2 separate regions of the Homo sapiens genome follow, and region 1 is linked to region 2. Evidence: fine-mapped expression QTL. Tissue or cell type: whole blood. Region 2 holds a variant in brackets; the other region holds the start of a gene. All regions are shown on one strand. Distances are from middle to middle.

What was found. PIP is the estimated chance that this variant, and not a neighbour inherited with it, causes the effect.
Region 1: it holds the start of ANKRD22, and the variant in region 2 is fine-mapped to the expression of ANKRD22 in whole blood (INTERVAL, PIP above 0.99). The same link has a PIP of 0.9 or more in unexposed skin.

What each region holds. Positions count from the first base shown.
Region 1 is chr10:88,849,600-88,854,753 of GRCh38, forward strand. It overlaps ANKRD22 (ankyrin repeat domain 22), which reads right to left and starts at 2,245. Exons shown (of 6, transcript NM_144590.3): 1 at 1,988-2,245. The coding sequence starts at 2,008.
Region 2 is chr10:88,812,386-88,817,539 of GRCh38, forward strand. It overlaps LIPM (lipase family member M), which reads left to right. Exons shown (of 9, transcript NM_001128215.1): 3 at 712-910; 4 at 2,145-2,254; 5 at 2,703-2,839; 6 at 2,972-3,118; 7 at 4,431-4,502. Among named protein-coding and RNA genes, the nearest start is that of LIPM, 12 kb to the left of the region's middle. The variant C/G (reference allele first, on the strand shown) is at 2,080.

The DNA.
Region 1 (5,154 bases), 37 kb after region 2:
AGGATACTAAAAGTGACTCTTACAAGATTGCTGTATTAAATGAGTTAATACATATATAAAGTGCTTAAAATAGGGCCTAATCTATAAGAAGCCCTAAATACATGTTTGTTGCTATTGTAAATATTATGAACAAATACCTTTGATAAGGGTTTAAATGAATCAGCCTTGTTTAAAAGTCCATCTTACGCAGTTGGAGTTACTTATTCAAAATTAGGGCCTCTCACTGAGCTCTAAGCTTATCCTCTAGTGCAGATTTCAGGACCAGCTCTCTGGGATCCTCCCTCATTCTCTCCTTCTTTCTTAAAAATATATATTGCATAACTATTAGCACTGCAAAGCTCTAAGGAAAAATGATAACCCTATGTCCCCAATCTAGAGGAGCTTCCCGCACTCAAATTGGGGGAAGTTTTTTTTTTTTTTTTGAATAGATTCTTCCAGGCAACATAGGACCAGGGATCCAGCAGGCTTTTTTCTTGTCCTTAATGAGTAGCTCACAATCTTTATCCTTAGGAAACACAGAGCAAATGATATATTACAAATGAGTAGGCTATGTTTAAATATTTAAGAGATTACTATTTAATTTTAAAGAGTCTCAAACTCTTTAAAACTATAGATGAAAGGTCCTACTTCCAACTTTCTACATCAGAATACCTGAGGATGAGACTAGGCTTTTTTTTTTCCTTTTTCCAAATCACATATAATTCCCACATGCAATCTGAAAAAGCAACCAAAATGCAGAATCTTAGGTCCCACCCAGGTCTACAAACTAAGAATCTGCATTTAAACAAGACCTTCAGAAGATCTGTATAGACATTAAAAACGGGAAAGCACTGGCCTGTGGCAGTCTTTCTTTCTCAGGATGGTGGTAAACAGATCACCCCTATGTCAGAACCACCTGGGATGCTCCTTTTAAAAAGTATACTTTTGTATCCTACCATAGACTGAGTGAAACAGACTCTCTGGGTTGGAGTCCCTTGAAACTGCATTTCAAACAAACTTCTCTCCCTGACACTTGGGCAGTCTAAAGTTTGAGAGTTACCAGAGTAGCATTTAAAAGCACTATATGTTTTGTCATTTTCATGTATATGATCCCTTCATGAGGCTAAAATCACTGAGCAAGACATACCTAGAGTTATAAACCAATCAAACACTGCATTTGCACACACGGAGAGATATATACACACATGGCATTAGAAATAACTGCAAATAAACTGTCTTTAATACTAGATCAAAACTATCCAAGAAGGTTCCCCTGAGCATCTGCAATGAAATGCAGATTAACCAGTTAATTGTGTCAGAGGAGAGAGAGAGTAAATTATGTATAATGACATCATTACACCTCTTGTACTCTTGTCTAAACATTCCTTGCTTGTACTTTCTTGAAACATCATTAAAAATCCATTTGATTCTAATAAGTTACTTCCAATACAAGTAAAAGTACCTCAGTATTTATCAGATGTGAAAAGAAAATAATCAAATCATCAAAATATGTTATTATTCCTCTTCTTCATAGTGATAGTCTTTACTAATATTTACTAAAGGTGAATCTCCCTTCAAATACCAAGCTGAAAGGCATTACTCTGGTCATGTGGTTCCATAAAAGAGGCAGTCAATCTTTTGGATATTTAGAAAATCCAATTGAGTACAATTTTCTCTTTTTCTCTGAGTGTTTGTCATGAGAAAAGCACAACTCAAACTCGATTTTGTCCAAATTATCCTTGCAAACATCCAGATACTATGAAATGTGTATTATATTCATCTCAACTTAGATCTAGCTAATATTTTAGAATTACAAAATACTTTGTCTTAAACTATTAAGAATATCAACAAGAATAACACATAGGACTTTATTTTTTCTGACTTAATGCTCCCCCAGGGAGTTGAACAGACAAAACAGAAATATATTAACAGGGATAGAAAATTGCATCTGAAAAGCATGAGTAACTTTTAACATCTTTGGAACTCTGCTTTCAGAAAGGTGATGTACCTCAGAGTATAGGATTCCCATGCTGGTCCTTCACAGGCTTACTTCACCTCTACAGCTCCTTGAATCTTCTGGAGGTATTTCTGATGAATATCAAAATCCTTCCTGGCTGAGAGGAAAGTCCCTAGAAGTCCAAGCTGGTGGCAAGCTCCAGGAGTGCTTTTCTAGCAAACACCTGTCAGTGCTTTTCCAGCAGCTCAGGCAGCAGCACACCTTCCAGAGAGCCCAGCCCAATGAAACAAAGGCACTGGTGTCATGTGTAACGACCCAAGCCTGTATCATCTAATGTTACAACCCTGAGGAGCCGGTTTCTGAGTCATATTTGCTCTGCCAGTGGTAACATGCAGGAAAGAAGGAAGCAAAGTTAAGGGAGGAAGAAAAGTTCTTACATTGGCAGGAAGGACTCACGGTTCAAACCAAGATACTGTATTTCAGACATTTCGTAATCAAAATCTGGTTTTCAGTGGCCATTGAGAAAGGCTAGAGACCAACAAACTTACTTGTGAGAGCCACACGTGTCTGGCAAAGAACTTGAAAAATAATCTTCAAAATTCTCAGCCTAACAAGTAACGCTTTTCCAGCTATTTATGCAGTTTTGTAAACTAATAAATTTACTAACATAATAAATCTTAAGTTGTTTTAAATATTCCAATACTATTCACACATTTAGCCAAATTACTTTATAATATTCAATTTAAAAATCATAAGTCTAAAATCAAATACTCTGTTATGCATTTTAAATTGCATCATCAATTTATTTATCAAACATGCTAGTATGCCCAATCTCTTAAATATTGTAAACATTTTATATGCTATATATGATATCATTCACACATTTTCCTTGAACTGAATACAATCACATCAAACTTTCCCAGAATTGAAACACTCGACCGTCCACACACCCATTATAACCATGGGACCAGCCCAAATGGGCCGTACTTTGTTGATAACAAATGTCAATTTACTCTGTAGATATAACAGAGCCAAAAACTGTAAGTCATTTAGCCCAGGCATGCACAATAAAAATGTTTTTGCCTCTAACAGAACCTAGAACAAATGATCCCTCCCCTGGGAACCAAGAAGACAAGGACATGACGGGAACCTAAATGCAGGACCTCTTTCAGAAGCTAGGGGCTCATTGGCCCAAAAGATCCAGGGCTGAAATCTGCCTCAACATACCTTACCTTTAGTGGTCAAATTTGAAGCCCTTCAATCAGTCCCTGCCAAACCAACATTCCTAAATCCTTTCCCTCACCCTCTAAGCCATACATTTTCTCAGATTCCAAACTGGGGAGGCAGATTTGAGCCCACCTCCTGTCTCCTTGCTGACCTGTCTTGCAATAAAGTTTTTCTTTCCTCAAAACCCAGTGTCCAGATATTGGCTTCTGTGAGCAGGGGGCAGCAAGCCTATTTGCTCAATAATATCATGGAAGAAATAGTTCAACCATCTCAAACCAATTGATGTGATTTTCCCAATCAGTTGAGGCTCCTTAGTGGCCAGAAACTAGTGACCAGGATACTAGGCCTGTGCTTATAAATATTCAGGGAAATTCTTCTTACTCCACTGGTGGATATACTGAGCTATTTTTATAATTATTTCAAAGATTTTATGTTTCACTATGCAGTTGACATCGAGGCCAGCCTCTCTGGAGTTTAAGAATTAGCTAATTCTTCCGTTGGAGGAGAGGGAAGTCTGCAATACCCACTAAAATTGCAGCTGACTTCCTCTTTGGCTTGGTTTGATTTTGTATTTCTGTAGACTCTTAAGACATTTAAGTGTCTTCCCATTGACTTAGAAAAACATTAATGGTATATCCATTGGGTACTTCACTCTGTTATGCAATATTTTGTAACCTCTGGTAGCCTCTTTTGTAACCTCTTTCAACTAATTTGTGTGGACAGAACTCTTCACTGTCATTGCTTCTCTCCTAAGGTTGCTGCTAGCTTTCTTCTTCAAGCTCTTTCCTCCCTGACTGAGCTCTAAATGTTTCTTTAACTTTCAATCAGGATCAAAACTCATTTTATTAGATTCTGCATCTCTTGACAACATCTGGTTCTAAAGGAACAGTACTCATTATAATTGCAAATGATGTAGGGTTAGCTCAAAAAACAAACCAATGAAAAAAGCAGTTGACTCATTGTTATTTGTAAAACACTTGGATTTAACTCTAGGCCATTGGGTCTCAACCAGGGGTTATCTCGCCCCCAGATAGACTGCAGATTTAGCAACGAAAAAGATAAGATGTTCAGTTAAATTTGAATTTCAGATAAATTTCTGAAATGTCATATGGGACATACATACACTAAAAAATTATGTTGCTTAATGGAGAACGTCGTTTTATTGGAAACTAAAGACATTTGGCAATGTCTGGAGACATTTTTGGTGGTCACAACTAGGAGTGGGAGCATGGTACTCTAATGTGGGGAGCAGAGGCCAGGGAAGCTGCTAATCATCCTACAGTGCACAGGACAGCCTCTCAGAGCAAAGAATTACCCAGCTCAGAAGAGTGCTAATGTAGAGAAACTCTAGTCTAAGCCAAAAGGAGAATTAAAGGTGAAGGAAGAGGACTTCGTAAACTATAGTGTCAAATTGGAATACGGAGGCATATTGTCAGAATGAAGTTGGATAAACAGATATATTTTTAAGTGTTTAGGGTTCTTCCTCTGGCAATTTTGAGCCTATAATTACAAAGACAGGTAAAGAAAAGAAGTTCCAGAAAACAGCTTTCACAGGTAAATGTCTTCTGTCAAGAAATAACACTGTCAAGAAGACAAATGTCTTCTGTCAAGAAATAAACCTAGTGTTTAATCTGAATTAAACACTAGGGACTTAAAATTAGTGGCATCCTTTGATCCTGGCTGTAAATGCAGCCAACCTCCACTGACCAGCAGCCAACTGTCTGTGAGAGATGAGTCTCTTGTAAGGTGTATCCCAAAGACTTCCCCCCAAGAGGGGTTCAGTAGAGCATAACAAAGAAGTATAGTCCACAGAAACTCAGTTTTACGCTGATATCTTAATCCTTCAACATTATCTAACATTGTCCAACATTGACATTAGCAGTGGAAGTTATCTGAGTCACACGGCACCAAAATATGTCACCAGCCAGCAGTGAATCTGTGTGGGTTTGCAGCAAACTCAATTCTTGCCTTCTCAGAAGAAAGAATTCAAC
Region 2 (5,154 bases):
TTTAAATTTTACTCACTAATTTTAACATTCACTGATAATTTCAATCTTTCTGAATTTGTTAGTGGGTATTGTACTGTAAATCAATGTTTTGTATTTACTAATTGGCATTCTGTAAATAAGAGCTTTTCCTTCCAATTATTTATTTGTTCATTTATTTATTGGTCTCTATATGGACTTGAACATTCTTAATTTATTCAATGGGATATAATTATTTACTATAATTATTTTGATGCTCAATATTTCTGTATTTGAACAGTGGGAGCTCCTTCAAGCTGGCTTGTGGGTCCTTTTGACATGAAGGTCTCTTAATCACTAAACCATTATATATATGTGGTATACATATACCTTAATAATCATACTATACCATCTACTGGGGCACTTTCAATATTTCTGAAGAGCCCAGACAAGTCTGATAATAATTACACAAAACAAAGAACAGAAGTTAAACTTTATAGATTCTTTTTCTGCCGGGCAACATGCCATCCATTTCTTGTGCTCTATTTTATTAAAGCATAACAAAAATCTTATTTTACTGATGAGGAAATCAAGGCACACACCAAAGGTCAAGTAATTGGCCAAGATAACTAAGCTAGCAAGCAGCTGAATCAAGATCTGAACACAGGTTTGTTTGATTTGAAAGCTCTTATTCATTACTGGACAACAAGAAAGGGAGAGAACATTTCATACAGTTGAAATTTTCTCTTTTTGCAGGTTCCAGGCCTGTGGTGTTACTGCAGCATGGCCTAGTTGGAGGTGCTAGCAACTGGATTTCCAACCTGCCCAACAATAGCCTGGGCTTCATTCTGGCAGATGCTGGTTTTGACGTGTGGATGGGGAACAGCAGGGGAAACGCCTGGTCTCGAAAACACAAGACACTCTCCATAGACCAAGATGAGTTCTGGGCTTTCAGGTATATGATAATCTCGAGAACAGAGGTAGACATGTCTGTCTTTCAAAAAAAATGGGTAAAAAATTACGGCTTCTAGTATTTGGTTGATTTATTTTGGTTGAGTCATCATTATCTTAACATGATATCCCCCAGTTTTCTTAATTAACTAGTGATTCCTTGGTTGAAGTAGTGAGGAATGCTGAGTTCCCCATGTAGAAGGTGGGTCTAGCTAATAGGGTGAGAATGGTGGTTGGTGTCAGGTGACTAAGATTGGAATGAGAGAAGTGTAGATCAATTTCCTCATGGGGAGGGGCGGGTAATAGTATAATAGTACTCCAGAAGGAAAAGAGACCAGGCAGCATTAAAAAAAAAGAAAGGAAACTATTAAGCCTAGTGTGTTAGTCCGTTTTCACACTGCTGTAAAGAACTGCCCGAGACTAAGTAATTTATAAAGTAAAGGGTTTTAATTTACTCACAGTTCAGCGGGGCTGGGGAGGCCTCAGGAAACTTACAATCATGGCAGAAGGTGAAGGGGAAGCAAGGCACCCTTTTCACAAGGCTGCAGCAAGAAGTGCTGAGCAAAAGGGGGAAGAGCCCTTTATAAAACAATCAGATCTTATGAGAACTCACTATCACGAGAACAGCACAGGGGAAACCACTCCCATGATTCAACTACCTCCACCTGGTCTCTCCCTTGACACATGGGGATTACAGGGATTATGGGGATTACAATTCAAGATGAGATTTGAGTGGGAACACAAGGCCTAACCATATCACCTAGGGACCATCGATTTGACTTACCTCTCATGTTCTTACAAAAGATTTTTAACTCTTTTATTTAAATTACCTATTGATGTTCAACTCACTTTTTATGGCTATCAGAGACGGACCACTTCAGCATCTTTACAACTATTCCTGTAAATGAATCTGCAGAGCCCTGTGCGGTTCTGCTTAACAGTAGAACAGGACACTTCCACTAGCAGTTGCGTTATGTGCTCAGTAAATATTCACTGAAGATAGTTATTGCTACGTGATAACATCTAGAGAAAACAGCAGTTTGCTGACAGCCTGTGACTCCAGAGGCACCCATGCTTCATAGGTTTGAAAGAAATCCATTCTGAGTGTTGTGAGGGACACGGTAACAAGCTGTCAGAGTTGACAACTCAAGGGCTTGTTTGTAAACCTGGTGT[C/G]GGGGGGAGCTTTTGTTTGTTTCTGATTATAATTTTTCATATAACTTTGTCTTTTCCCCTTGTAGTTATGATGAGATGGCTAGGTTTGACCTTCCTGCAGTGATAAACTTTATTTTGCAGAAAACGGGCCAGGAAAAGATCTATTATGTCGGCTATTCACAGGGCACCACCATGGGTAGGTTCAAAGAAAAGCAGGTTTGTATACTCGGAAGAAATGTGAGCATACGACACTAGCTATCCCTGAAATCTGTCACCTTGTGCTTCCTTCAGACCTGCTCTTTTCATCTTCAGAATCATGTAGTCCCCAGCAATGTGTCTAGCATATAGACATATGTGCTAGATATAGCATATCTCTGTGCTATATGTGTCTAGATATAGCATATCTCTCAATATAAATATTTTCTCAAAGCCAACATCGTGTTATTCAATTATTTATTTAACTCATTGAGCACCTACTACTTGAAAGCAAATATGCTGGTGTCATAAGGACCTTATAATTTTATAGGAGAGGTAAGATGCAGTCACATATATACTTATTGAAATATGTATTTAAAAGCAAAATATACATTTTATGAGTTCTAAAAATATTTCGTATTCATGTTGACATATTTCTTCTTTTGCAGGCTTTATTGCATTTTCCACCATGCCAGAGCTGGCTCAGAAAATCAAAATGTATTTTGCTTTAGCACCCATAGCCACTGTTAAGCATGCAAAAAGCCCCGGGACCAAATTTTTGTTGCTGCCAGATATGATGATCAAGGTATGAGACTCCTCAGAAAACTTCCTGTGTACGTAGAAAAATCTTCCAGCCCAATTTCCTAAAACATAAACTTTTAAATTACAGTCACATCTTTTCTGTCTGTCATGTCTATGTCACTTCATATTTTCACAGGGATTGTTTGGCAAAAAAGAATTTCTGTATCAGACCAGATTTCTCAGACAACTTGTTATTTACCTTTGTGGCCAGGTGATTCTTGATCAGATTTGTAGTAATATCATGTTACTTCTGGGTGGATTCAACACCAACAATATGAACATGGTAAGTGGGAGCCTAGTAAATTCCCAGCATCCCAGCATAAAGCTGGGAGTCATATGGCTCACCCCTGGAGGGAGAGCTAATGCCAGTGAAGACTCAGAGTAATGATATATTCTCAGTAACTCAGTTCTCTGCAAACTGTAAGGAAATAAGGGAAATGCTTCAGTATGGACTGAAACAAGGTTAACATAAGGGCATTGCTGATATTAAATCACAGATTATAGATGGAAGAGGTCTGAAAGCAGCTTTACTACAGTGAATTAAATTAAAAAGAGCAATTAGCACATGTTAGACAACAGAGACAACTGTCATGCATCATCCACCTCTACCCTGCACTGGGGTCCTGTAGGTTTGTAGTTTAAGTTCTTTGATGGAACATCAGGGACCTTCATTTTGGCTTAGGCTACCAGTTGGTATCACTGGGTGGGTTCCCTAGGAAGCATACTCTGAGATGGAGGTTAATGTGAACAATGATTTGGGTCCTGCTCTAGGGATAATACCTAGAGAAGGAAAAGAAACAGGACTAGGTAGGTGAAAAAGTCAAGTAGTGATGCAGTCTCAATAGGAGACTTAGTTGATCCTGCAGGGATTTTTGAAGATAGGATGACCCTTCAGAACCGTCTCAAGTTAGGAAGAGAGGGTTGGGTCTTTATACACCATATCAGTCAGTCATTTAATGTAGCCATACCAGTAACAGGGTAGCACTGGGCAATGTATCTGCCTACAATTGGTGCAATCCTCAAAGCAGACTGAGAGTGGAGGGCTGTTTGCCAGCAGCACTCCCAGCAGCTGGGGCAACATTTCCTTAATTCTGAATATTTTTTCTTCTTCTTTAAGATTAATAATTTGATTTATAGTAAGGATATGAAAAGTATATATTATGTATCAGGCTAATTTATTACCTATACCAAGCCTATGAGTGTTATTAATATCCCCACTTTGCAGATTAGTATACTAAGATTTAGTAGATTAAGTGACTCACTCAAATTCACCTAAAAATTAAACTGCAGAACTAGGATTTGAATACAGGCCCAATGCTAGAGCCCTCATCCTAAATATCACTAGTAAAATTTTTTTTAATTAGGGGCCAGATCTCTGATGAGAACCTATTCTCAGATGAAAAATACCGGTGTCTGGCAATACATTTAATGACATTTTATTTACGTGCATGTACATATTTTTGTTTCATAGATAATTGCTGATAACTTAATAATGTTACCATTTCTTAGTCTGACACCCTGGAGATTTGGTCTTGACAGGGTATACATCTTGTGAGTTTTTCTATGTCCCCCAGAATACTCATGGTTTGTTACAGAGCCGAGCAAGTGTATATGCTGCCCACACTCTTGCTGGAACATCTGTGCAAAATATTCTACACTGGAGCCAGGTAAGAATGTTGAATTTGCAGTCTTTGCTAAATGTCCTGTTATATTTTGTGTAGAATAGTCAAAGGACACCATTTAGATAAGCCAGGGATTATTTCACACTTATTCTAAGATGAAATGCAGTATCGTCGATGCTATTTTGATGGAGAATTTGATCTAGATCACTGAAACTTTTCAAGAAATGGGAAGAAAGGACAGAAGTAGCCTAAGAACTTCTTTAGATCTTAAAAGTATGAATTTAGATGATCCAAGTGAGACTTCTCTCTGTCTCTAGACACCTCAAAGATGTGGCTGGAGATAATTATGTTTCTACATCTTCTCTTCAGCTCCTCCAACAATACAGTCAAGTAGAAACAAAAATGCTAATGTGGGGTCTGTCAAAAGAGATATTCACAGGAGTCCTTCACACTGCAAACTTTACCTGCAATTACAGGAAACACACACCTCTGTGTGTCTATGTGGTGTGTGTGAAAGAGAGGGATGGGGGAAGGAGAGAGTTCTCTCTGTTGACAGGTAGGGAGAGACAGAGAGAGAGAGAGCAATTGTACCATCAAAACCAGAGAAGAATTATAAGTTCAATTAAATTTTGGTTGCTATCTTCCAGGATCACCACATTGCACAATTCCAGGGCACGATTCCCCATTGTAGCCCACA